Linked DNA regions of Homo sapiens. The protein of the gene in region 1 interacts with the protein of each later gene in a pairwise test. Each region holds a gene or a part of one and is shown in the gene's direction. Other genes may lie near its edges. The genes, in order: FSD2, FAM161A, ZC2HC1C and CCDC146.

Region 1 (7,027 bases):
GTATTTGGGATTTTTCCTCAAGGTTCCAGAAGAGGATTACTAGGTTAGAGAGAGTATGAACAGGCTAGAGAGTATGAACACTTTTTTTTTTTTTTTAGACAGAGTCTTGCTCTGTCGCCCAGGCTGGAGTACACTGGCGCAATCATGGCTCACTGCCTCAGCCTCCCTAGTAGCTGGGACTACAGGCATGCACCACCACACCTGGCAAATGCTTAAATTTTTTGTAGACATGGGGTTTCACTGTGTTGCCTAGGCTGGTCTCAAACTCCTGGCCTCAAGCAATCCTCCTGCCTTGCCCTCCCAAAGTGCTGGGATTACAGGCATGAGTCACCACACCCTGCTGAAAGTGTGAACATCTTTAAGGTTCCTGACCCAGGTTGCCAAGCTTGCTCTTCAGAAAAGTGGGGCCAGTTTACATTCTAGCCGGCAGCATATGAGAGTGCTCACTTCACTGTCCCCTTATCCAGCTGCGGGTATCACTTTTGATATTTTTAAATATTTTCTAACTGAAAAGGCAAAACAGCATCTACTTATTTGTTCTGTCACTTTTTTTTTTTTTTTTTTTTTTTGAGACAGGGTCCTGCTCTGTCACCCAGGCTGGAGCGCAGTGGTGTGATTTAGGCTCACTGCAACCACCACCCCTCAAGGCTCAAGTGATCCTCCCACCTCAGCCTCCCAAGTAGCTGGGACCACACGTGCACACCACTATGCCTGGCATTTTTTTTTTTTTTTGTATTTTTGGTAGAGACAGGGTCTTGCCATGTTGCCCAGGACGATCTCGAACTCCTGAGCTCAAGCAATCCATCTGCCTCAGCCTCCCAAAGTACTGGGATTATGGGCATGAGCCACCACGCCAGGCCTGTTCTGTTACTTTTAAGTACAGTTTTTTTCAAATGTTTTTGTGCAGGTGCTATCATATACAAAAGTAATTGTTTTGTGAATTGTCTGTGCACATTCATCTATTGAGATGCCACTTTTTCAATTAATTTATACAATTTAAAAATAATAGACTGGGCGCAGTGGTTCATGCCTGTAATTCCAGCACTTTGGGAGGCTGAGGTGGGTGAATCACCTGAGGTCAGGAGTTCCAACATAGTGAAAACCCGTCTCTACCAAAAATACAAAAATAAGCTGGGTGTGGTGGCACATACCTGTAATCCCAGCTAGTTGGGAGGTGGAGGCACAAGAATTGCTTGCACCCTGGAGGCAAAGGCTGCAGTCAGCCGAGATCATGCCACTGCACTCTAGCCTGGGTGACAGAGTGAGACTCCATCTCAAAAATAAATTAATAATAATAATAATAATAATTGCCTGAGATGCTTCCCATTATTTTGCCTTTTAAGTTTTTTTTTTAATGTATGAGGGAAGTATTTTGTTGGACATATCTATTAGACATTTCTTTTGTAATTTCTTTTGTCTCTTTTAACCTTAGAAAGCCCATCCTCCCATAGAAAACAAATTTTTTAAAGATGGTTCAAAGTGAAACCACGACTGAACTACACAGATAATTTTTTTAAAGTTTTATATGAGTAGAGCCCAATCTAATGATCATCTACTGCAATGCCCTTCTCCAGAAATGATTTTCCTCCTCCTTTTGTGTTCCAGGGCCCAGATATTCACTATTAAGTGTCCAGGAAGGATCTTTCTTATATAAAGGTGCTTCTGAGGACTTCCAGAGTTACAATGGAGGAGGAATCGGGGGAGGAACTGGGGCTGGACAGGTCTACTCCCAAGGATTTCCACTTTTACCACATGGACCTGTATGACTCTGAAGACAGACTGCACCTCTTTCCAGAAGAGAACACTAGGATGAGGAAAGTAGTCCAAGCTGAAATGGCCAATGAGTCAAGAGGAGCAGGGGATGGTAAGGCTCAAAGAGACCTTCAAGAGGAAGTGGATGAACTTGTCCACTTATATGGACTTGAAGATGATCATGAATTAGGGGATGAGTTTGTTGATGAAAACATACCCAGAACAGGGGTTTCAGAATATCCTCCTTATATGATGAAGAGGAGAGACCCAGCCAGGGAGCAGAGAGACTGGAGACTTAGTGGAGAGGCAGCGGAGGCCGAGGACCTGGGCTTCGGAGGGTGGGGCTCAGCAGGCCAGTGCCAGGACTTGCGGGAAGCCTATAGGTACACACACGGCCGTGCCAGCGAGGAGTATGAATGCTATGTCATCCCCGAGGAAGAGGATGAAGAAGAAGCTGCTGATGTCTTCTGTGTCACTTGTAAGACTCCAATAAGAGCTTTTCAGAAGGTTTTTGATGAACATAAGGAGCATGAAGTGATCCCACTCAATGAAGCACTGGAAAGTGCCAAGGTAAATAGGTGTCCTTGGTTCTTCTCTGTCTTGATATTGCTTTGGTATCTCAAGTACATACGCAGGGAATAAATCTAAAACGCCTTCTACAAGAGTGAGAGAAGATGTAACATTAATACCTTCTTTGTGATCCTCTGTTGGATAGGATGAAATTCACAAAAACATGTACAAATTGGAAAAGCAGATAATTGAGATGGAAAACTTTGCAAATCATTTGGAGGAGGTTTTCATCACTGTGGAGGTAAGAGCACACTTGAAGACCTCATCAGACTCACATTTCTTCCATCAATGGCTATGTCAAGCAGCTGTTTCTGGTATGAGCTAGAGAATCTGTTTTCTTAGAATGTGAGGGGTCACCACTCCCCCTTCTCTCCTCCCTTCTTTCACTGACCTCCCATAGCACCTGGGCATGGACGTCATGGAACCAATTACCTGTCAGCATTCCCTGCTGAACTATAAGCTCTTGGTGTGAAAGCTGGGTCGTCTGTCTCAATATCCCTAGTCCTACTACATGGTATGTTTCAGAGCAGGCATTTTATACATGTTTGTTGCATGAGTAAATAAGGTAGAAATTTCCCAATCACAATCCCTCTCCTTCACTGGCTTCATTTTCTCCTAATCCCCCTTTACCCAAATCACCAATTGTATGTGATTTAGACCCTTATTCGAATTCTTTTTTTAATGTATACTGTTTTCATCATTCAACTTGATAGACCCTTATTCTAACAAAGATGACTTCACGGTGGCATCATCCAGTGAATTCCCTCATTTGAGCCCAGGTGGTGAAGAGGGGACATCCTTTCTTTTGCCCTTGTCTTTTTGGGTTTGTTTATTTGTTTTGGACCTCTTTTTTTGGGGTAGAAGTTCTTACTGAGAATCCCCGGGTTGCTATCTGGTGCATTGGCGGAGAAACCAGAAACAGTGGAGTTCCATGTTGTTCCGTTGGTTTCGGGAGTTGTTAATTTTAGGCTTTTGGGGGTACCTATAATGTTGACTATATAAAGTCAGGTGTAGACTGTCAAACACTTTTTTGTTGTTCTAAGAGGCAAAATACCCACTTCTGCCAATGATCGCTACTCAAACAAAGGAATATTTTTAGCTCTGCATGCATTTAAAAAATAAATTTATGGCTGGGCACGGTGGCTAACGCCTGTAATCCCAGCACTTTGGGAGGCCAAGGCGGGTGGATCACCTGAGGTTAGGAGTTCGAGACCAGACTGGCCAACATGGTGAAATCCCATTTCTACTACTAATAAAAAATTAGCTGGGTGTGGTGCCATGTGCCTGTAGTCCCAGCTACTTGGGAGGCTGAGGCAGGAGAATTGCTGGAACCCGGGAGGCAGAGGTTGCAGTGAGCCGAGATCACACCACTGCACTCCAACCTGGGCAACACAGCGAGACTCCATCTCAAATAAATAAATAAATAAATAAATAAATAAATAAATAAATAATGTATTGCCTTTGTCTAGTTAGCAATTTCCAGACTTTTCTGAGAGATCAGTAAAAGCTTAGAATTCTAGGATTGGAAAGGAGTTTCTATTCTTTGACAGCCCCTCTCCCTCCCAATCTTGACATGGGTAAGAATGTGAGCCTTGATCCAGATGCCAAGACGACTGAGATAGAAGGTGTGGTGTGGCTCTGTAACTTTTGTCCACTAGTCATATTGGCCCCTAGAGCTACACAGAATAAGACTAGCTCCTCTTTCACGGTTCAGCCTTGACAAGGTATTACAGGATACCCATCCCGTTTTTGGTAAGTGTTCTTTTCCTCAGCTGATATCTATTTCTCATAAGATTAATAAGTTTCCATGCCTGTCACCAAACATGCCACAGTCCCCTGTGTGTGCCCTAGTAGATACATGGTAACCACTATGATGCCAGAGCTCAACCCAACCTTCCAGATGAGGTCAACCAGGACTGAGGAGCTTAGGACTTGCCCTCTCTCTTCTCTTCATGCGGATGCTCTACTTCTATTAATGCAGCTTCGGATGGTACCAACAGGAGGATCTTATATGAATCAACGAAGCCCCAGGCCCATTTCCCATGAAGGTAGACCTTTTCCAGCCCCAATCTTACAAGGGAGGAGAGCTATTGCACTAATCCCCCATGGAAGATACAGAGAAGTGGCAAACCCTTCCACTGCCAAGCATAGGGTAGTGGTAGAAGGGGGTAAGTGTACAACATCGAAGACAAAACTTCTTACATTGGCCGGGCACAGTGGCTGACGCCTGTAATTTCAGCACTTTGGGAGGCCAAGGTGGCAGATCACTTGAGGTCAGGAGTTCGAGACCAGCCTAGCCAAGATGGTGAAACCCCATCTCTATTAAAAATACAAAAAAAATTAGTTGGGCTTGGTGGTGGGTGCCTGTAATCCCAGCTACTTGGGAGGCTGAGACAGGAGAATCACTTGAACCCAGGAGTCAGAGGTTGCAGTGAGCTGAGATCGCTCCACTGCACTCCAACCTGGGTGGCAAAATGAGGCTCCATAAAAAAAAAATAAAATAAAATAAAATAAAATAAAAAACTTCTTACATGCTGCTCTGCCAGCTTACTCTCAGATCAAAGTCCCTTCATCCTCAGTGGCCATCCTTTCATACTCAACACTGGGAAGTTCATCTATTGCCTTTCTCTCTCTTCCACCATTCTGAGCAAGTCCTGTGCACATAGCAGGTGTTCAGTAATTACTCCCTGAATGATTGATAAGATCCTCTTCCTTGGAAATGTCCCCATCATCTGATGAGGATGACATCCATCAGAGCTTGCAGAGCTCTGGGGACAATATAAGCAATATATACTCTATTAATATTAATATTTCTCATCTACTGTGCTCCTGGATTAATATTGTCAGAACCCTCCCTCTGCCCTCTTGCATCTTCTCATCTGTAAGCAGTGCCGCCAGACCACAACCCTTGTTCCTCCTTTGCCTTCATTTCTCCCCTAGTTGATATGATCCTAGTTGATTTAATCTTGATATTTGTATGATCCAAGCACCAGGGAGTGAAGAGGAGCCTCATGAGATGTTAAGAGCTCAGGAGAGAATGATAGATGGGAATCTCTCAGGGAAAATATTTCCACATTAAGGTCCAATATCGGGCAGAATCATCACTGATAATCTCCCTGGTCACTTGTCATGGTGATAGAAGGTAGTTGAAACTGGAACTGGATTGCAAAATGCTGCCAGGAGAGAAAGCAGTGCTTTTGTTTAGATTATTCCTGGAGTCTAGGCCGGAGACACCTATGTTCCAGCACCTCCAGTTTCCATTCCAACTCCCAACAAGAGATGAGAGGACAAAGTAGAGGAACTAAAATAGTTCTGATAGGCACATATTTTCATTTCTCTAATGACTCTAATCAGGCTGGGCGTGGTGGCTCTTGCCTGTAATCCCAACACTTTGGGAGGCTGAGGCAGGCGGATCACTTGAGGTCAGGAGTTCAAGACCAACCTGGCCAATATGATGAAACCCCATCTCTACTAAAAATACAAAAATTAGCCGGGCATGGTGATGCACACCTGTAATCCCAGCTACTCAGGAGCCTGAAGCAGGAGAATCACTTTAACCTGGGGGGCAGAGGTTGCAATGAGCCAAGATCACACTACTGTACTCCAGCCTGGGCAACACTGCAAGACTGTGTCTCAAAAACAAACAAACAAAAAAACAAAAAACAAAAGACTCTAATCAACACACTACATGCGCTGAAATGATGACTGAGATCAACTGTCTTGCAGGAGAATTTTGGAAAACAAGAACAAAACTTTGAGTCACATTACAACGAGATCTTGGAAACACTTGCTCAAAAATATGAGGAAAAAATACAAGCTCTAGGGGAGAAAAAGAAAGAGAAGCTGGAAGCCTTATATGGACAACTGGTCAGCTGTGGAGAAAACCTAGATACTTGCAAAGAACTGATGGAAACAATAGAGGAGATGTGTCACGAGGAGAAGGTGGATTTCATAAAGGTCAGTAATGAAACAAAATGAAATAATGAACATAATGGAAAGAGATGGAATTATAAACGGAAACGACAGTTATGGTTGAGGTAAGCTAGGTTGTCCTCTTTCCTCCTGGAGGCATTGGAATCGACTTTTATGGCCAGCATCCATTTGATTCCACTGGATGATCGTGATGGGGAGGCTGTGGCCCAATCTCTCTGCATGGCTTCCACGTGAGTGGCCAGGCGGACTCACAGCGCAGACTCTCTCCCTCCCCCAGCGCAGAGGCAGCACCAGTCTTTGTTCCTCTGTTCTGGTCACCCAGATACCTGTTCCCTCATCCTGGAGCTAAGCTGAGCAAAAACCGTGCTCTAACAGTTTTTTGTTGTTGTTGTTTTGTTTTGTTTTGGTTTGGTTTTTTTGAGACGGAGTCTCACTCTGTTGCCCAGGCTGGAGTGCAGTGGCGCGATCTCGGCTCACCGCCAGCTCTGCCTCCTGGGTTCACGCCATTCTCCTGCCTCAGCCTCCCTAGTAGCTGGGACTACAGGCGCTCGCCACCAAGCCCAGCTAATTTTTTTTTTTGTATTTTTAGTAGAGACGGGGTTTCACTGTGTTAGCCAGGATGGTCTTGATCTCCTGAACTCGTGATCCGCCCACCTTGGCCTCCCGAAGTGCTGGGATTACAGGCGTGAGCCACCATGCCCGGCCAAGAGTTTTATTATTATTATTATTATTATTATTATTATTATTATTATTTTGAGATGGAGTCTCGCTC
Region 2 (7,027 bases), on another chromosome or scaffold:
GAAACCCCATCTCTACTAAAAATACAAAATTAGCCGGGCGTGGTGGCACATGCCTGTAATCTCAGCTACTCAGGAGGCTGAGGCAGGAGGATCGCTTGAACCCGAGAGGTGGAGGTTGCAGTGAGCCGAGATCACGCCATTGTATTCCAGCCTGGACAACAAGAGCGAAACTCCATCTCAAAAAACAAAAAATGAACAGACACATAACTATAAGATGGGAAATGTTGGGAAAGAAATGAACAGCCTATAATGATTAAAAATAAATAGGAGAGAACCTATTGTTTTTCTTCTGACTCCACTTTTTATTTATTATTTTTTGAGACAGAGTTTCACTCTCTTGTCCAGGCTGGAATGCACTGGTGCAGTCACAGGTCACTGCAGTCTCAACCTCCCAGGATCAATCAATCTCCTCACCTCAGCCTCCCAAGTAGCTGGAACTAAAGGTGCATGCCACCACGCCCAGCTAATTTTTATATTTTTTGTAGAGACAGAGTTTCACCATGTTCCCCAGGCTGGTCTCGAACTCCTGGGCTCAAGTGATCCACCTGCCTTGGCCTCCCAAAAGTGCTGGGATTATAGGCGTGAGCCACTGTGCCTGGCTCCACTGTCGATATACATACATACATACACATATACACACATACACACGAACGCACACACACATATATTTTTTTGAGATGGAGTTTTACTCTTGTTGCCCAGGCTGGAGTGCAGTGGCGTGATCTTGGCTCACCACAACCTCCACCTCCCAGGTTCAAGCGATTCTCCTGCCTCAGCCTCCCAAGTAGCTGGGATTACAGGCGTGTGCCACCACGCCCGGCTAATTTTGTATTTTTAGTAGAGACGGGGTTTCTCCATGTTGGTCAGGCTGGTCTCCAACTCCTGACCTCAGGTGATCCGCCCGCCTCAGCCTCCCAAAGTACTGGGATTACAGGCATGAGCTACCATGCCTGGCCTATATTTTTAAATTCACCTGTTATTTTAGATACAGAGGTGCATGTGCAGGTTTGTTACATGGGTATATTGCATCCAGGTAGTGAGCATGGTACCCAATAGATAGTTTTTCAACCTACGCCGCCCTCCCTCCCTCCCTCCCTCCCCACCTGGTGGTAGCCCGCAGTGTCTGTGGTTTCCATGTTTATGTTCGTGTGTACTCATTATTTTACCTGCCACTTATGAGAACATGTGATATTTGGTTTTCTGTTAATTTGTTTAAGATTATGTCCTACAGCTCCATCCACGTGGCTGTGAAGGACATGATTTCATTCTCTTTTTTTTTTTTTTTTTGTGATGGAGTCTCGCTCTGTCACCAGGCTAGAGTACAGTGGCACAATCTCGGCTCAATGAGACCTGTGCCTCCTGGGTTCAAGTGATTCTCCTGCCTCAGCCTCCTGAGTAGCTAGGACTACAGGTGCACACCACCACACCTAGCTAATTTTTGTATTTTTAGTAGAGACGGGGTTTTACCATGTTGGCCAGGATGATCTTGAACTCCTGACCTCAAGTGATTCGCCAGCCTTGACCTCCCAAAGTGCTGTGATTACAGGCCTGAGCCACCATCCTGGCCTAATTTTTTTATTTTTATTTTTATTTTGTAAAATAAAGGTCTCACTATGTTGCCCAGGGTGGTCTCAAACTCCTGGGCTCAAGCAATTCGCCCTCCTCGGCCTCCCATAGTGCTCGGGTTAGAAGTATATGCCACCATACCAGGTGACATTCTTCTCTTAAAATATCAAATGTTACATATGACGCTTAGGCCCTTTTAACAACTCTCCCCCAGAAGAGAAAATATGAATACCTACTCCCTCCCTAATGGTAGCCACTGTTTCAAAATTGATATGTATTCTATTCTCTGGCCGTTTTTCTATCTCCTCCATATATTTTAATATACAGTACATACTATATAAATATATAAATAAATATATAAATATATATAAGTATATAAATATTTAAATATATATATAAATATATATATTTAAATATATATATAAATATATATATTTATATATATATAAATATATATAAATATATAAATATATATATAAATATATATAAATATATAAATATATATATAAATATATATAAATATATAAATATATATATATATAAATATATATATAAATATATATAAATATATATATATAAATATATATAAATATATAAATATATATATAAATATATATAAATATATATATAAATATATATATAAATATATATATAAATATATATATAAATATATATAGATATATATATATAAATATATATATAGACAGAGAGAGGGAGATAGTTCTGCAACTTGCTTTTTTTTCTTATTTATTGGGAGTTTACCCATGTTAGTACATGTAGATCTCTCTCATTCTTTACAAATTCAGCGAAAAAAATTTTTTCAAAAATTACAGGTTGCAGATGAAACTATATAGGCTGCAGCACAAATAATTCTTCATAGGTGCTGATTACTAATAAAGCAACAGGTACTGGAAGGATTCATTATCTAAATGGGTCAAGCCAATCTAGGGAAGATTATCCTCTAATCTGGTGGCTGCATTTACAACATTCCACAAAAAGCCGATTAAAGGGAGAGGATGCTATTTTAGGCTCTTGGAAAAATAATGTCTATGGCCTAGGTTATTTTGTATACTAAATATTTTCTCAGTGGAGACAATTAAAGATTAAATTAGAATTGGAGGTCATTTACTAGCCATTCATCTGTTTTAGGTTAAACACTGTGAGATCAGTTTATCTGAAAAGTTTCAGCTAGCGTTAACAGTATTAAGCTGAAAACAGAATGGATCCAGTGCAAAATCAGTACATAAGTATAATTTATCAGACCTGCCGCATCTTTCAGAAGCTACTCATTCTTCTATATGGTTTTCAAACGGTTCTTCCAGGTCCAAATAAATTTGATCCTTCTTGTGTAAATGACTGCTATAAGACATGATTTTTAAGAGATATTCTAAAAGAATGAATGAGAGCGCATAGATTCTTTTGCTTAAAAACAGTTCTTTGAAATACCCTCCCTGTTTTAATTATAGTTTTTGGAACATAGGCCTTTTTCTTAATACTTGGTGGAATATAGCTCTTTAGAGCAGCCAGCATTTCTTTGCATGGTTCATTCTTTTGGGAGGGAGTAACTGCCCTCTTCCCAAGGTGGAATTTTTTTTTTCTGTACATTCATTCATTCATTCAGTAAATATTCCTTGAACATCTGCCATTAGCCAGGTACTTTTCTAGACACTGGGGACACAACATTAAACAAAGCAGACAAATCCTTGCCTTTCTTTTTGTTTTGTTTTGTTTTTTTGAGACAGGGTCACACTGTTACCCAGGCTGGAGTGCAGTGCCTCCATCATAGCTCACTGCAGCCCCAACCTCCTGGGCTCAGGTGATCCTTCCGCCTCAGTCCCCCAACTAGCTGGGACTATAGGTGCATACTACCTCACCAAGCTAATTTTTTGTATTTTTTGTAGAGATGAGGCCTTGACGTGTTACCCAGGCTGGTCTGAAACTCCTGGGCTCAAGCAATCCACCTGCCCCAGCCTCCCAAAGTGCTGGGATTACAGGCCTGAGCCATCAGGCCTGGCAAATTCTTACCTTTGTAATGTTTACTTTTTGGTAGGGGCAGGCATATAATACACAATCAAGTACAGATATGTAGGACGTCAATGGTGATGAGTACTTCTGGGAAAAATAAGACAGACAAGGGGGCTGACAGTGAGTCCTGGGAGAAGTTGTAATTTTAAATAGGAGAGTCAGGGAAGACCTTATTGAGAAGACAACATTTACATAAAGACCTGAAGGAGTGAGCAAGTGGGTCATGTGGATATCTGGAGGAAAAGGCATCCTAGGGAGAGGGAACAGCAAGTGCAAAGGCCTTGAAGTAATTCTGTGGATTTTTGTTTCTTTTTTTTTGAGATGGAGCCTCACTCTGTCACCCAGGCTAGAGTGCAGTGGTGCGATCTTGGTTCACTGCAACCTCTGCCTCCTGGATTCAAGCGATTCTCCTGCCTCAGCCTCCCGAGTAGCTGGGATTATAGGCATGCACCACCACACCCGACTAAGTTTTGTTTTTAGTAGAGATGGGGTTTCACCATGTTGGCCAGATTGGTCTCGGATTCCTGACCTCAAGTGACCCAAAGTGCTGGGATTACAGGCATGAACCACTGTGCCTGGCCAATTCTGTTGATTTTTCGAGTGAAAACTGCATACTGGATTCAGACACTGCTACTAAAACGAACTGCTGCTGCCCAGATGAATAACCGTTGCTAGACTGACACAAGCCGACAGGAAGCAGTCAGAGGGCTAACAGAAAGGAGTAAGTCCCATCTTTCTCCTCTAGCCTTGTATCTCCCTCTAACTCCACTTTTAGCAGAGTCTGATGAGGAGCACTGGCAAAGCAGAAGTGTGGTTTGCAGAGTTCCAGCTCTGGCATTGCAAAGCAGAGTCGAGAAGGGTGGCATTGGAGCTGAGAGACACTAGTTTAACACCTGGCACACCTACTTTACATATCTTAAAGCTGATGTTCAAGAAGTTCATGCCCACATCACATTGCTAAGTGCGGAGCCCAGGCTTGTATGAGTATCCTGACGTCACATCTGAAATCTTTCTCCTAAGCTGTGAGAACACTCCAAACTAAAAGTTATTTAACTCCCACCCAACCCTTTCATCTTTGAAGGGTCATAAGGGGGCTGAAACCACGTGACCAGTAATCAGGAGCCAGTGGTAGGCAGGAGATGGAAACCCCTTCTTGCTTGCCCTAACCTCCCTTTCTAGGTTTACTTCCCAAAACTGCTTTATGGGTTTTCCTCTCCTTTTATCCGGCAGCCATGTGCACCTTGCCCTCTGCTATGCACAGCCTCCCCAACCCCAGCCTGCGCATTTGCTAACGCCATTTCCTTTGCCTAGGGTACTTTCCCCTTCTTTCCCATAAACACTCTGTGATCCTATAGATTTCTCCATTCTTTTTTTTTTTTTTTTTTTTTTTTGAGACAGAGTCTTGCTTGATCGCCGAAGCTATAGTGCAATGGCTCGATCTCAGCTTACTGCAATCTCTGCCTCCCAGGTTCAAGCGATTCTCCTGCCTCTGTCCCCTGAGTAGCTGGGACTACAGGTACACGCCACCATGCCTGGCTAATTTTTGTATTTTTAGTAGAGAAGGGGTTTCACCATGTTGGCCAGGCTGGTCTTGAACTACTGAGCTCAGGTGATCCACCCACCTCAGCCTCCCAAAGTGCTGGGATTACAGGCGTGAGCTACCGCGCCCAGCCTTCTTTTTTCTTGATACAAGGTCTCACTCTGTCGCCCAGGCTCAAGTGCAGTGGCGCGCTCACGGCTCACTGCAGCCTCAACCTCCTGGGCTCAAGTGATCCTCCCACCTCAGCCACCACATCCAGCTAATTTTTTAAAAAAAATTTGTAGAGATGGTGTCTCGCCGTGTTGCCCAGGCTGGTCTGGAACTCCTGGCCTCAAGCAGTCCTCCCACTGCAGCCTCCCAAAGTGCTGGGATTACAGGCATGAGCTACCACACCTGGCCTCCATTCTTTATGACTCATCTCAAATATTACCTCCTCCAGGAAGTCTTCCCCTATCTTCCAAACTCAAACGAAACAAAAGCTCCCTCCATTTCCTGTCTACCACTGGCTCCTGGTCACTGGTCACCTGGTTTCAGCCCCCTTTTGACCCTATAAAGGTGAAAGCATTGGGTGAGAGTTAAATAACTTTTAGTTTGGAGTGTTCTCATGGTTTAGGAGAAAAATTACAGATGTGGTGTCAGAATACTCAATCAGAGGCTCCAAAGACCCGTATCAGTTGGTCTTTGTATCTCTCATGCCACTCTCTACCTCCTATTAGTCCTCCTTCCGCTGCTTATTTAAATGTTGGTGTTCTCCAACATCTCCATTCTCAGGTCCTCTCATGTCTTGTTGCTCACACTCCCTCCAGGCAGCCTCGTCCATAACCAAGGCTGCACCTGCTACTTCTGTGTGGATTGGTGGCTCCTGTATCTGCTCTCCAGCCCAGCCTTCTCACCAGGTCTCCAGACATTTATCCACATGTTTCCTGGCGATGGATGTTCTAGCACTATGCCTCGGATTTATTTATTCCTTTTTCACTGCCTCCCTGATCTGGCAAACTTTGTCCTCGTCCAACCATGTGTCTCCAGTCTGGCTCACCTCTGTGAATTGTGCCTCTGTCTCTTAGTGTCTGACATTGTGACATACATCTGTCTCTCCGCTTAGCTGGAAGTAGCTTGTGGGCAGGAATCAGGTGTTCTGTCTCATTCTAAGTCAGCTGTCTATTATTTATATACATGTCCTTTCCTAAGCTAGCTGGAAACTTCTCAAAGGTAGAGTTTTTGTTTGTTTGTTTGTTTTAAGTGAGACAGAGTCTTGCTTTGTCACCCAAGCTGGAGTGCTGTGGTACGATCTTGGCTGACTGCAACCTCCACCTCCTGGGTTCAGGTGACTCTTCCGCTTCAGCCTCCCGAGTAGCTGGGACTACAGGTACCTGCCACCATGCCTGGCTAATTTTTGTATTTTTAGTAGAGAGGGGGTTTCACCATGTTGGCCAGGCTGGTCTCAAACTCCTGACCTCAAGTGATCTGGCTGCCTCGGCCTCCCAAAGTGCTGGGATTATAGGTGTGAGCCACTGTGCCTGGCCTCAAAGGTAGAGTTTAAAAAAAATCTGACGTACATTTTAGCAGCTAGCTGATTGCAGGATGGCCCCCAAATATTTAATGAATGAGGAAATTCACAAAGTAGTCATCCTGCAGATAAGAAGTTTATGGTGAGAAGCACATAAAGAAACAGCAGAAGATATCAGAGAATTCTCTTAATTGAATTGTTTGACATAGTTAAAGCAGTTCTCTGATTCATAGAGTTGTTGGTAGCAAATTTCTGCACGTAAGTTCTATTGAAGACTGCTTTTTTTTTTGGAGACAGAGTCTCGCTCTGTCGCCTAGGCTGGAGTGCAGTGGCCTGATCTCAGCTCACTGCAAGCTCTGCCTCCCAGGTTCACGCCATTCTCCTGCTGC
Region 3 (7,027 bases), on another chromosome or scaffold:
ACTTACATGATAAATTTAGGTGAACTTCATAGGCACATTTGGACATATCTGGAGAAGATTGTCTCATAAATGAATGACATGTCAAGGTTGTGCCACTTGGTTTATAAAATGGTTATTTCTCAAGGTGTGGCATGCTGACAAACTTTATTTTAGTAGTTTTAGTGTTTAGTGTTGTATTAGAAAAATTGATTCGTCGTTTAGTGTTATATTAGGAAAATATAACAATATATTAAGCCCCTGATTTCCAGGGATCATGAATTTACAGAAAAATATTAATTAGTTGTAAGGATGAAGTGAAAGTGCAGATGATTGAAGTTTGGGAAAGCGTAGATCATATGATCTCAGAGGCCCCATCTAGTTCTAATATTCCAGAAGAATAAGAGAGTGTCATTCTGTTTTCATTTCTTCCCAACCCTCCCTCCGCTGTGCTGGCACCTCTTGTCCATTGGCACTTTACAGTTTCTGTGTATTTGCTGGAGCCTTTAAAAACTCACATTTATATGATGGTTGTTAGAAGAAATTGTTTACAATTAGAGTTCTTTCTTTTAGTAGTTTGGAGAAATCACAAGGAAGTCCCATCCATGTTCAGAGATCATCTCCCTGAAATCTAGTTTCCAAAGAAGAAATCAGCATTTTGCTCTTGCAGATAATAATATGATCACCACTTACTGTTTTTTCCTGTTTTCTTTCAGTTCAACCCAGTAATCCACTGGGAATTCACTCTATGTCCCACTGTAGCGATTTATTTTTGGCCAGAGCCTAAAAGAATCTTGTGTTTCTTAAATTCGTAAATACAGTTACGGTGAAGCAAAATAATTAGGTTCCTGAGATCAGATGCTCCAGCTTTATGGCAACTAGTTTGTGGGAATGTGTGACATTGAGGACACCAAGACAGAAGGGACCTAGACTAAGATGCACCTGCACCACCCTGGTAATGTCTCAAATCTTATTCCACAGTGCTGTGCCTTTGGAAGCTGAGTGGTTGTACCTTCCTGTCATTCCTCTAGAGTACTCAAGAACAGGTGATTTTCCTGGTATCCTTTAATCTTCACGTAACTCCCAGCAGACGTACACCCTGTCTCTCTCCTGGACTGTAAGCATTTTTGAGGACAGGGAACATATTTTGTGCTTTGTGCTTAATAAGTGTTAACTGAATAGAATTTCAGTACAATGAGGAATAAAATTATAGGAATTAGAGTATAAGAAGTAAATTACTAAAGGATCTCATATACTTGAGGAACTTTCCCCTGATCAAATTCTTTGAGAGGAACTTTCCCCTGATCAAATTCTTTTTTTGAGACCGAGTCTCGCCCTGTTGCCCAGGCTGGAGTGCAGTGACGCGATCTCGGCTCACTGCAGCGATCTTGGCTCACTGCAGCCTCCACCTACCGGGTTCAAGCAATTCTCTGCCTCAGTCTCCTGAGTAGCTGGGATTACAGGTGCCCGCCACCACACCCAGCTAATTTTTGTATGTTTAGTAGAGACGGGGTTTCACCATCTTGCCCAGGCTGGTCTTGAACTCCTGACCTTGTGATCCACACGCCTCAGCCTCCCAAAATGTTGGGATTACATGCATGAGCCACCGTGCCTGGTCTTCGAATTCTTTTAAAGGTTCCTGGATACCATCGCTAATACTCTCTTGCCTTCTTGTCTGTTTTGGCAAGAGACTTTCTGGAAGGATCCTTTCTTTTCCTTTGATAGTATCTCTTCCTATTATTCATCATTAACAATGCCAGATCACCAAGAGCTAGTTGTCTTTTTTCTCTTTAAAAAATTTAATAGTGTTTGCATGCATTTAAAAAACATGTAGTACTGAATGACCTATAATGGAACCCCTAATTCAGCCCCCGGAGGCAGCCTTCAGTTCTGTTAGATGGTTCTTCTGGTCTGCCTTTCCATATTTCCAAATAATATGCTTATTTTCTTGATTTATCAATTTTCTACATTACCTGTTTTTTTTTGTTTTGTTTTGTTTTTTTTGAGACGGAGTCTCTGTCGCCCAGGCTGGAGTGCAGTGGCTTGATCTTGGCTTACTGCAACCTTCACCTCCCGTGTTCAAGCAATTATTGTGCCTCAGCCTCCTGAGTAGCTGGGCTTACAGGCGAGTGCCACCACGCCCGGCTAATTTTTGTATTTTTAGTTAAGACAGGGTTTCACCAAGTTGGCCAAGTTGGTCCTGAACTCCTAACCTCAAGTCATCTGCCCACCTCGGCCTCCCAGAGTGCTGGGATTACAGGCGTGAGCCACGGTGCCTGTTCTACCTGGTAACTTCTTATGGAAGCTGGGAGTGAAGTTCTCTTTCATATTCCCTCTCTCCTACTGTTCTCTTTCTCTTATCCTTCCACTGTAGTCGAATCACAATTTTTGGTTAAAAGTAGTTAGCTTTCACATTGTAATGATCAAGTAAATTTTGTTCATTAATGAGTGAACAAATTCTGTCTCTGCCCACATGTACCTAAAATTAATAATGGACGTATGTTTTCATTTCCTTCATTTTCTACATACCTGTCTTTTTCTCCCCCGCAACGATCCATCTGATATCAGACATCTGTTAACGTTTTTGTAATGCTCAAACACCTCTCATAATCTATCAGTTTGATTTTTTAATTCTGAAAACCTCCCTTCAGCCACTCTGATCCCTTCTGCTCCAACCTGGACTGGGTATTCTCTAGGCCTGGTGCAAACTCATTCTCTTGGAACTTCTCTTTGCTTCTCTTCTTTGTTGGGTCCTCTGTTTCCAGCATCCTGTGTCTTCCTTTTTCTTGCATTACTCCTTCCTTTGCTGAAGCTTACTAAGAAGGGTGCATAGCAGGTATATTGTCTTGGAATGAATGACACTATCTATATGACAGGCTCCCATTTGATGATTTGGCTAGGTACAGAATTCTAGGAGGAAAATGATTATCTGTTAGAACTTTTAAAGTATTTCCCACTAGCTTTTAGCATCCAGTGTATTGTTGTGAAATCTAATGCCATTTTGATTCCTGTTCCATTACAAGAAACCTTTTTTTTTAAAAGGCTACGGGATTCTCTATTTATTTTGAAATTCTGAAACTTTACAATAATTGTGCTAGATACTTGGTAAGCCATTTCAATCTCAAAATGTGTGACCTTTAATTCTAGGAATGTTAATTGTATTATTTCCTTAATAATTTTCTCCTCACCAGGTGCTGTGGCTCACGCCTATAATCCCAGTACTTTGGGAGGCTGAGGCAGGTGGATCACCTGATCTCATGTGTTCAAGACCAGCCTGACCAATATGGTGAAACCCCATCTCTACTAAAAATACAAAAATTAGCCGGGCGTGGTGGCGCACGCCTGTAGTCTCAGCTACTTGGGAGGCTGAGATAGGAGAATCGCTTGAATCTAGGAGGCTGACGTTGCAGTCAACCAAGATTGCGCCACTGCACTCCAGCCTGGGTGACAAAGCAAGACTCCATCTCAAATAACAACAACAACAAAAACAAAACAAAACAAAACAACAATAATTTTCTCCTCGTGCTTTCTCTGTTCCTTCTGCAACTCTTATTGGTCACATGTTGGACTTCCAGGATTAACTTTCTAATTTTCTAATCTTTTCTTTTTACTTTCCATCTTGATCTTTTTTCCCATTCTGAGAAATTTTCTTGACATTAGTTTACAACATTTCTATTTATTTATTTATTTATTTTTTGAGACAGGGTCTTGCTCTGTCGCCCAGGCTGGAGTGCAGTGGCATGATCTTGGCTCACTGCAACCTCTGCCTCCTAGGTTCAAGCAATTCTCCTGCCTCAGCCTCCTGAATAGCTGGGACTACAGGCGTGTGCCACCACGCCCAGCTAATTTTGTGTATTTTTAGTAGAGATGGGATTTCACCGTCTTAGCCAGGATGGTCTTGATTTCCTGACCTTGTGATCTCCCCACGTTGGCCTCCCAAAGTGCTGGGATTACAGGCGTGAGCCATCACACCTGGCCTCTATTTAAATAATTTTTATTTTTAGCTATCAAAGTTTTAATTTACAATAGTTCTTTCTGGTTCTCTGGTTGTCTTTTTTTCACAGTATACTCTTCTTGTTTTATGGACACAATCTCTTCTAATACTCATTTTGTTGATATGGTCTCATGTTAAAAAAAAGTTTTCTTCTGCCACCTGCCTTGTTGCTGCCTCCTAAGTTTTTGTTTGTGGACTTTTTGGCTCTTTTTCTTGTTAGAGCTTTTAGCAAATATCTGATGATTCCTGGCTGTCCTTTCATATTTAAGCTTAAGTGGGGCTCATTGACTAAGGATCTTCATATTAAGGTTCCCAGATAGTGAGTCTTTTAATTAGCGTTTCCCAAGGTCAGTATCTGAAGGCTTTTCTCTGGACTGTTCTGTGTATCCAGAGTACCCCTCTTTTTCCTATGAGGATGCCAATATGCTTGGTACTCTGGGGGCTGAGTGGGGGAAGGAGGCTGACAGTTCGATAATTTGGTATGTACACTTGTACTTAATCCCCATTTTCAGCCCCAAGATTAACCCAGTTCCACGTGTCTAGATTTCCTGAGTCAGAAATCTGTGTGGTTCAATTTCTCCAGAGAATAAATCCTTGCTCTTCTGTGAGTGTGCTTGGGTGTTGAACACTTGGATGCATAAGGTGGGAGGAGCCGTGGGGTCCTACTTGTTTTCAGTCCTGTACCTCCTTACTTTCCACTATCGGGTACTTCCAAGCACTGAACCTCTCAGGTTCTGTTGGGAAAGTGGCTTGCCTCTCAGCAGTACCTCCTTTGCAGGCCCTTGGTTTGCCTCAACGCTGGCAAGTCAGTTACCGCTGTTGCTCCTTTCCTGTTCTCTTTGACCTTGCAGATTAGTACCCTTTTCATTTTCTTACTGTTATTCTACAAGAGACTCAGGAAGGAGATAGGTGCCAACTTGAATGATCAGTCTCCCTTTTACATTACAGGCTGAACCTCCTCAGAAGAGCAACTGGAGATAGAAGCATGAATCTTTTATCCATACGTTCCGCCAGGCTCGAGAGGTCCAGCAGGTAACTGCCAAAGGTGGAAACTGTTCACACTTGCCTCCCATCCTGCCTGCAGAAAACCCAGACTGCATTCAGTGTCCTCAGTGTAGCCACCACTTTGCTCCCAAGGTGGCTGAGCAACACATTCCCAAGTGTAAGACCATCAAGAACTGTCTTCCACCTCTAAGGAAGCATTATAGTTGAGCAGACAACAATGGAAACTTTTGGATAGTTCAGAAAGCTCTGCTTCTCTTCAGCAGTAAATGGGAGTAGAATTTGATGCAAAGCAGAAAGAAATCAAACAGCTCCCAGATCTGCCTGCAGAGCTAAAATCTGTGAGGAGAGAGCCACTGCTAAGCAGCAGGAGGCAGAAGGAAGCCCCAGCTTCCCACTAAATTACAACCTTGGGCTGGTATGCTTTATGTTATTGCCCTCAGAATTGATGGGTGAAGACACTGAAGAGTCATGAGCAGGCTCCATTAAAGCTCTTTTCTTGCATGCCTGACTTGTGGTTTGTGCTAGTTAAGTGCCTGCATCTGGTTCTGCCTTCTTGTCACTGCATGTATGTTCAGAGTTCCTGTTAACTCTTGCTTTTGTAGAAGCTGGAGTTATTAGGATGTGTTGGTGTCAGAGGGGCATGATCACCCAGATAGTAACTCTTATAAAAGATAATACAATTTTGCTATAAGGCATTATTAATGGAAATCTATCCTTGGTCTCCCTGGTGCATAAGCCTGGCCAAAACCCAATACAAGTATGTAAGGTTAAGGCACCAATGTCTCCTAAACCTTCCCTATGGTGTACTGTGTAATAAAGGAAAGATCTTTATGTACTTTACAGGGTAGGGATGGGTGTTGGGGGGGAAACACATTATACTTCTCTCTACTTGTTCTTTTCTAATGGGTTTCATATGTTAAGAAAGAAACCTCCATTTTAGCTGTTAGTAGCACTCTACTTTCAAATCGGTTTGGCTAAATGACTGTTTAGAGGCAGCAAAATCTACCATCAAAGCAAGCTGAGACAGGCTGGTCATGGTGGCTCATTCCTATAATTCCAGCACTTTGGGAGGCTGAAGTGGGAGGATTGCTTGAGGCCAGGAGTTCAAGAGCGGCCTCGACAACAAAGCAAGACCCCATCTCAAAACAAAACAAAGCTGGGACACTGCACAGTGTCACATGCCCTTGGCAATTATAGCATAGTCAACTTCTATTTCAGAGAGTAAACTTTGAAGGGAAAGGGATCAAATCTTTTTAATTTTCTCTGTGTAGAATATTGCCTAGCACAAGTTAGACCTTCAATTAGTGAGGTCTGGAGATTTAAAATTAAACAAGAAGATGAGTGAGTCCTACACTAGTGAAATCAGAGAACTGATAAGTTAATGTCTGCGAGAGTATTATCAGTTCAGATAGGAGTGAAGTTAGCACAACAGATAGAAATCTTAGGATTACTGTTCTGTATTACTCAAATTGTTAGTTTAAAATACTGGAGAAAAACTGCTCAATTTGAGCTAGTCAACAGGGCTAGACAGACAACAAAATCCTATTTTACTAAGTAACAAATGGCCACTCACTCTTGCTCCATTTCCACTGCACTCCAGCCTGGTGACCTAGTGAGACTCCATCTCAAAAAAAAAAAAAAAAAAAAGAAAAAAAAATTGGGCTAACAGATCAGACCAATTTGAAATGTGAGTTAAGGCTTTAGCGGTGAAGCTGCAGGACACAGGCTGGGAAAAAATCCTATATATTTAAATAGGAGCACACATTTCTTTGCACTCTTTTTAATTGTTCCAAAGGAAAGGAGGTATCACATAATAAAGCTTTATGGTTAGCCCCTTAAGGAAACCTCACACAGAGATAATGGATATTTAACCTAATAGGTACATTCCCTAGGCAAGTTCAATGAAATGTACACTTTAAGTGGGAATGTAAACCAGTACATTGCAATAGATGGCAAGAGTAAGCTGTGGCCAAGGTCACAAAATGGCAACATGTGGATTGCTTTGCTCCACAGATGTTTTATTTCGCTGGCCTAGCATTCATAATATGATCT
Region 4 (7,633 bases), on another chromosome or scaffold:
AGAGACAGCAGTATACTAGATTCTAATTTTGATTGTGAAATTGGAAATCTCAAACTCTTGAGTCTTCAGAGGACAAGTCTAGATTAGTTTTCTGAAACTTAAGTATCAATGACTGAACAAAATATTTCTAAGGACAAAAAAGAATTATGATATCCTCACCTAGTCATTCAACATGAAGACCTTATTATACAATCTTTTACAACAAGAATCTGAACCAACTTATTTTGCTAGAAGGACTTGTGATGGTAATGTTAATCTTTTATGATATTTGTGCCAAAAATTTATTTGAAATGATTCATATGTGGACACATGCTGATGGCAGATACGCAAATAAAGGTGGATGAAAGAAAAAATATGTAAAAATTAAAAATGCATCAAATTATTCTAACTAGTGTTTAGAAATCTAAAAATGAAAATATTTTGCAATTATGAAGCAAAGATGACTGACTTCAACAAAATTGCATGCTTTCAAAGTTCACAAAAGTATCAAGTTTTGACTATGCAAATGCAAGAAGCACTAAGAGTAACGATAAGCTAGCACCTATCAGAGAGGTATTTCAAACTATTTACAGCTAACACCAGTCTAATCTTTAAAAAATTAAATATAGGTCAGTCATGGTGACTCACACCTGTAATCCCAGCACTTCATGAGCCCAAGGCAGGAGGATCACTTGAGCCCATGAGTTCAAGACCAGCCTGGCGCAATACAGTGAGACCCTGTCTCTACAAAGAAAACACTAAAAAAAAAAAAAATTAATTACAGCCGGGCGCAGTGGCTCATGCCTGTAATCCTAGCACTTTGGGAGGCCAAGGCAGGCGGATCACGAGGTCAGGAGATCGAGACCAGCCTGGCCAACATGGTGAAACCCTGTCTCTACTAAATATACAAACATTAACTGAGTGTGGTGGTGCATGCCTGTAATCCCAGCTACTTGGGAGGCTGAGGCAGGAGAATTGCTTGTACCAGGGAGTCAGAGGTTGCAGTGAGCTGAGATTGCACCACTGCACTCCAGCCTGGTGACAGAGTAAGACTCCGTCTCAAAAAAAAAAAAAAATTTAATTACAAAACAAGATGAATCATATGTTACTTTGCACAAATAACTACTTAATCCTTAAGTAATGAGCTAGCTACCTGGTACATTAAAAATGTGATTAAAGTCATCTAATATTTAAGCACATTTATAGTGCACAAAGATTCTTCCTTACTCTTTAATAAAATGGAAGAAAATCATTTGTGGAAACTAAAATTTCTTTAGTAAGATTTCAGAATACTAGGAAAATACTATTAGTTTCACTGTACACTTTGAAATTAAATCAAAAAGAAATTTGAGGCAAAACCTCAAAACTGCTATAACCTCTGTACTTTACTAGAACTGATTTCAAGGCAAAATGTTTGCCAAGGACTTTCTGAGAGATGAATAAATGACAATGTTCTGAAAAACAGAAGAATCTCTTGAGTTTGATAGTACGATTCATAGCTTAAGGCTTTTAAAAAAATAATAGTGAAATAAAATTAGAAAAATGCTATACCTTAACAGACTGCAAGATGCTAGTCCCATGCTCTGTTTCAATTTTGCAATTATCACCCTCAATACTTTGAACTTCTACACAGCCAGACCCTGATGACTTGATATCTAAACCTAGAAGTAAAAAAAGAAAAAAGCAAGTTAGTACTGCAGTTTATAAGCTCCAAAGCATTTTAACCTAGAAACCCAACTCCTCAGTTATGTCCATAATATTGCTGAATCCTGGAAAGTGCATACTGTAAAGGTAAGGGGTCTTCTACCACGGCAACGGGACCAAATACAATAGCCTTTCTGCCCGTTTTTAGAAACAGAGCAGTTATTTCTACTGGCCTAAATCACCTAAAGAGAACTAACATAGATGGGAAGTAAAGGAGACTACGATTCTGTTAAGTACTCCTGTGAAAGACTGTAGAAGCCTCTTCCCCAGTATATATGATCATGACTTAGGTTTTCAAATCCTATGTCTAACCTTTCATACTTAAAAAATGAAAATATTACCATGCAACTATATCACAAGGTATTTGAAGTAATTTTTTAAAAATGGGAACAACTTTGAAAAACCTAATATATACTATTAAAACTACAAGATTAGGCCATGAGCCGTGGCTCATGCCTGTAATACCAGCACTTTGGGAGGCCGAGGAAGGAGGATTGCTTGAAGCCCAGGAGTTCAAGACCAGCCTGGACAATGTGGCAAAACTCCCTTTCTACAAAAAAACAAAAACATTAGCCAGGCATGGTAGCATGCACCTGTAGTCCCAGCTACTCAGGAGGCGGAGGCGAGAAGATTGCTTAAAACCGTGAAGTCAAGACTGCAGTGGGCCATGATTGTGCACCTGTACTCCAGCCTGCATGGCAGAGTGAGTGAGATGCAGTCTCAAAAAAAACCAAAACAAACAAACAAAAAACCCCACAAGATTGTGGACAAATGGCAGTGGTACATGAAGCAAGTTTGGAAAATAAGGAATTACAAATGCCATCCTTGGCTGTCTATTTAAGATGTAACTGCAGGCATCGCTGTATACAAATTTTAAAAATTAAAAACGCTGATATTTAATTTGGAATTAACATAAATATTGATGATTTCTCTTAAAGTAGGCAAGACCCGCCCCCCCGACTTGATTCCTGAAACCACAAATAGTACCAAATCCTATATATTCTATGTTTTTTCCTGTATACATATCAATGATCAAGTTTAATTTATAAACTAGGCATAGTAAGAGATGAACAACAATAATAATAAATACAGCAATTATAACAATATACTGTAATAAAAGTTATATTACTGTGATCTGTCAAAATATCTTAATATTTTCCTACAACAGTTGAGGCAGGTAACAAACTCAGACAGCCAAACGGTGGATAAGGGAGGACTACGGCATCTACTATTTGGGCAACTGTAAGCATTATAAAAGATGATCTTAAAAATGCTAAATGCTATTATTATTACCATCATCATCATCATCAATATCTTCCTTCAGTCCCAGGAAGAATGACAGTCTGGGGAGCCCTTCCTAGAAAAGTGTGTGTACACAGTGGCTTGCCATTTAGGAAAACCTAAGAAAGGTATCTTGCAGGCATTATTATTGAAGCTTCCTAGGCAGGCTTACCATGTGTTTTTCTTCAAAGCTTGCTACTCATGGAAAACTTAGGCCAAAAAGAATGGAAACATAACAGTAAGAAGCTGGGCGCCCGTCTAAAACCAAATACTCAAACCAGGTGGTACCTGGAACATCCTATTGACAGGGCTGTTTTGGGACACACCCCCAGGCTGTGAGCAAGGGGAAATGTAGATGGACTGCCATACCATTGAATGAATTGTCAAGAAACTTCAACCTTGAAAAATAAGCCAGTTTGCTAATGACAACGGGATAAAGAAGAACACAAGCGGCTCCAGAAATAGAATTTGACCTGGATTATACCAAATCGTGTTTCCATTCGATGTATAAAATTTCTATAATTGGGAACCTAATTTTTTAAATACTACTCGGATACTCAAGAATAGAACAGAGGAAAAGTTGCATTTCCGAAGGGGCCAACTGTAAATTAGGTTTAGAAAGCCAGGACCAATTAAAAGTGCACGTCGACCAAATTTATTAAGTTCACTGTGCGTTCCCTGGGACCCAAACCCGTTTTCACTTCACTTCACTTGCCAAACTTCAGGGGCGCGTTCACCTCCACGGACGCCTGGGGGTGGATAGTATCAGACACAATGGCCATCTCCTCCAGATCCTCGTCGTACTTCACCTGCAGGCCGTCCAGGCCCCGCACGCCGCCCTCCACGCCGCACACCGCGACCAGCACGCGGTCGCCATCCGGGTAGGTGAGGGGGTCCAGGGGCCTCACGGCCAGGTGGCACGGGAGCCGCGCCCGCAGCCGACCGAACGGGCTCACCTGCAGTGTCCACTCCTTCAGAGTTCGGCGCGCCGGGCCAGGCGGAGGGACCTCAGTCTCCGATCCGGGCCAGCGCTCGCCCCTACCTGAGCTGTACGGCCTGGCTTGGCAAGCCCAGCAAGACCAGCGCCCAGCGCCAGCCCACAGTCGGACCTGACGGAGACAGAGACGGAAGCAGCCAAGCTCCCAACCTGAACAGGGGGCAAGCATGGCGCGCCTCTCTCGCCAGTCCTCAGAACACTTCAGCCACAGGGAGGGTCACTTGCCACGGCCAATCGACTTGGCCACTGTGCCGCCTCAAGTCAAATAGGAGACGTAAGTCAGGGTTTGCTGAAACAAGAGCGAGCCGGTTGGCTTGACTAGGCGATGTAAACATCAGCTGCGTAATCCCCAGGGGCAAGTTGGGATTTGAAAGCTCTGAACTCTGACCTGGACCCCTTGCCTAAGTCCACCCCCTTTCGCTAAGGCCGACGGGATACGTAGTTCTAAAGCGGTGGAAAGTCGCAGAGCTCCGCCTCTTAGAAACCACATATCCCAGGAGGCAATGCGCAGGGGAGCACGGGTAAGAGGGCAGGTGTTAGAATCGCTGGAAAGGCGGGCGCCCTTTGTTTCAAGACCATTGGCTATTGGAGGGGCGGTACATGGGAGGCCACTGGCCAATGGGAAGCACGGAAGGGGGCAACGAGGGTAAAGCTGCATGGTCACCTTGGATACCAAGGACGCGACTTCTTGTTTGGAGAGGGTGGAGCTTTGGAGTGAGACCCAGGAGGCCAAATCCCAAAGAGAAAAATAGGAGCCTAAATAAGGATCAGGACCAAGGGAAGGGGTAAGAAACTGCGCTTTTTAAGTTGACAACTAGGTGCAAACTAGGAGTAACCTATGTGGATGTCAAGATCCAAGCTTCACTAACCTAGTGCGGGCATCTCCAGGGCATGGAGAATGCCTTGGTAAGAGAGTAAAGAGCAAGATTGGTGCTTTTTGAGGGAATTGCCTCTTTGGAAGTGTATTCCCTCCTATATTCCAAATATAGGAATAGAGTACTTGCTCCGTCCTGACCCTAAGTGACCTTACTTTGGGTTTTAATTTGCTCACTTTAAAAATGTAGATGATAATACCTTCCTTGCCTTGCCTCAAAGGGTTTTTGTGAGGATCAAGTAAGAAAATGGATGGGACCGTGGTGCACAGTCTACCAAATTACCGTGTAAAGTACTGTATTTTTATTTCAACGTACTTAACATTGATTCTGAGTTACCAAGAAAATTATGAGAGATCAGAACTTGTTTTGAGAATAGCATTGATCTCTTTGACTACAAATGATCATCAGTTTTAGAGTGAAAAAAAAAAAGACACAAAAAAGAGAGTCACCATGGTGCGGTGGAAAGAGCAGGGACAAGGGTCAGATTATTTTCCTGGCTCTGCCACTGCTTCATCTGTGTCACCTAGACCTGTTTCTTTAGTTTTAAAATGAAGAAAGATGGTTCTAAATGACCCTATAAGGTGTGTGTGTGTGTGTGTGTGTGTGTGTGTGTGTGTGTGTGTGTGTGTGTGTGTTTACCTTTTATAATTCTATGGGCAGTAAAATAATGGGAACAGAAAGATTTATTTTCTTCTTTTTTTCTTCTTTCCTGCCTGGTTTCTCTCTCCCCCTCTGTGCCCCTACTTCCTCCTAAAATGTATTCCCTAAATTATTTAGCCAAGACACCTGCAAACACTAACATTTCATAAAATGCAAGTGCCTTAAAAAATTGAAGCCCTTACCCAAGTACAATGACCAGAATTCTTGGGGCTATCGTGATAGATAGACTGGGCTAAAGTTCTCATGGGTACAAGTCTCAGGTTCTCTGCTAGCCACTACCTTTTTAAAATTTTTAAAAATTCAGTGTTCTCTTAAGTTATCATTGCCTCTTTTCTGTCCTTCTAGTCCTTGCTCCCTCCTTATTCTTCTTTCGGTGAAGACTCACTCATTATAGGTGCTAGCTCAGGTTCAGCAAGGGCCCACTGCAATAGTTCTTTTCTTGTCTTTGTGTTTCATTGGTTATAATTATTCAGAATAATCTTCAAACTATTTTTTATGAAAATTGACAGGTGTAACTTTGAAAAGAAATTTGAAAAAGGCACTGGTTTAAGGAAGTTGAGAATGTACTCAAATTTTCTGTAGAAACACTAGACATTTTTAGATTAAATATTAATTCTTAATAGTTAATTCTGTGTCTATGGTAATTTTTCCGTTTCTGAGACAAACTAAGTTAATGGAATTGGCAACTGAACTATAATTTTCTATGTTGCATAATCATTATTTTACTTTTTCAAACAAAAACCAAATAGAATTGACTGAAAATTTACTTTGCTGATCATACAAGGTTGAAAATGGAGAAAATTATTAATATTAAGATTGGTATAAAATAGTTAAAGTTATAGACACTTAAAAACAGTATAATGAGTATCAAATCTGTCCACATATCAACAATGATTAATAAAAGTTGTATCTTCCATCCATATGACATTATAATTGTCAAACCATGTTCACATGCGTCATCTCACTGTATCCTCACTAATTAGGAGGGAAATTATTCTCCTCACACTATAGATGGGGAAACAGATTCAGAAACATTAAGATTAAGCAATTAGAAGGTCTGGCCCTTTTATCACTCTACCAAAACGTCCATTTTCCTGACACCTTTGAAGAAAAAATGAAATTATTCACCTCATAAGTAGAAAATTATATACAACTTTTTTCTCCTTATTTAGAGTTTGTTTCTAAGATATTTTCACATCTTAGTTTAAAAAAGCTATTTCTGTGGTCATGAACATATACTTCTGGTAGGAGTGTTAAGTTAGCACAAAATTTTTAGAGTTCAATTCAGCAATAAGAATGAAAAGCTTTTTCTATGACTCAGAAATTGTGCTTTTGGGGATGTAAGCATAAAATTAGGGATGCTCAAGGAATTATGTTTTATAGGGTTACTTGTAAGAGAAAATAATTGCATCAATTTAAATGCTCCCTGGCCAGGTGCAGTGGCTCATGCCTGTAATTTCAGCACTTTGGGAGGCTGAGACAGGTGGATCACCTGAGGTCAGGAGTTCAGGACCAGCCTGGCCAACATGGTGAAACTCCATCTCTACTAAAAATTAAAAAAATTAGCTTGGCGTAGTGATGGACACCTGTAATCCCAGCTACTCAGGAGGCTGAGACAGGAGAATCACTTAAACACAGGAGGTAGAGGTTGCAGTGAGCCGAGATCACACCACTGCACTCCAGCCTGGGCGGCAAGAGTGAAACTCTGTCTCAATAAAAAAATGTTAAATGCTCCCAAATAAGACAGTATTACATAAATTAGTATATAGCTGATATATTATGCAACAATTTAAACATATCTTGATATGGGAAATAGTCCATATATAAAGTGAAAAGAATATATACAAAATTGCACGTATAGTATGATCTCAATTGTGTAATAATAATAATAAATTTAACATAAAATTATACTTTACAGAAACAATTCCAGAGGGATATATACCACTTGATAACAGTTGTTATCTTTAAGCAGTGATATGATGAGTGGTTACTGCAATTTTTTGTGTGTTATCAATAGTGAAAATATATTACATTTATAAGAAAACAATTTTAAAGCATTTCTTAGCATATATTGTTTCCTAAAACTGACTCAAATAATCAGATGGGCAGAAGATTTCTTACCATCTAGATATAAATG

Evidence for each region.
Region 2: the proteins of FSD2 (region 1) and FAM161A interact in binary tests that used the Homo sapiens proteins (3 or more experiments, as listed by UniProt).
Region 3: the proteins of FSD2 (region 1) and ZC2HC1C interact in binary tests that used the Homo sapiens proteins (3 or more experiments, as listed by UniProt).
Region 4: the proteins of FSD2 (region 1) and CCDC146 interact in binary tests that used the Homo sapiens proteins (3 or more experiments, as listed by UniProt).

Annotation. Positions count from the first base shown.
Region 1 is NC_000015.10:82,782,047-82,789,073, reverse strand, and holds part of FSD2 (fibronectin type III and SPRY domain-containing protein 2), read left to right. Parts: intron 1-1,605; 5' UTR 1,606-1,683; coding exon 1,684-2,322; intron 2,323-2,467; coding exon 2,468-2,563; intron 2,564-6,048; coding exon 6,049-6,279; intron 6,280-7,027.
Region 2 is NC_000002.12:61,844,044-61,851,070, reverse strand, and holds part of FAM161A (protein FAM161A), read left to right. Parts: intron 1-7,027. UniProt on the Homo sapiens protein: Involved in ciliogenesis.
Region 3 is NC_000014.9:75,072,614-75,079,640, forward strand, and holds part of ZC2HC1C (zinc finger C2HC domain-containing protein 1C), read left to right. Parts: intron 1-4,918; coding exon 4,919-4,951; 3' UTR 4,952-7,027.
Region 4 is NC_000007.14:77,117,987-77,125,619, forward strand, and holds the start of CCDC146 (coiled-coil domain-containing protein 146), read left to right. Parts: upstream 1-4,628; 5' UTR 4,629-4,746; intron 4,747-7,633. UniProt on the Homo sapiens protein: Essential for sperm flagellum biogenesis and male fertility.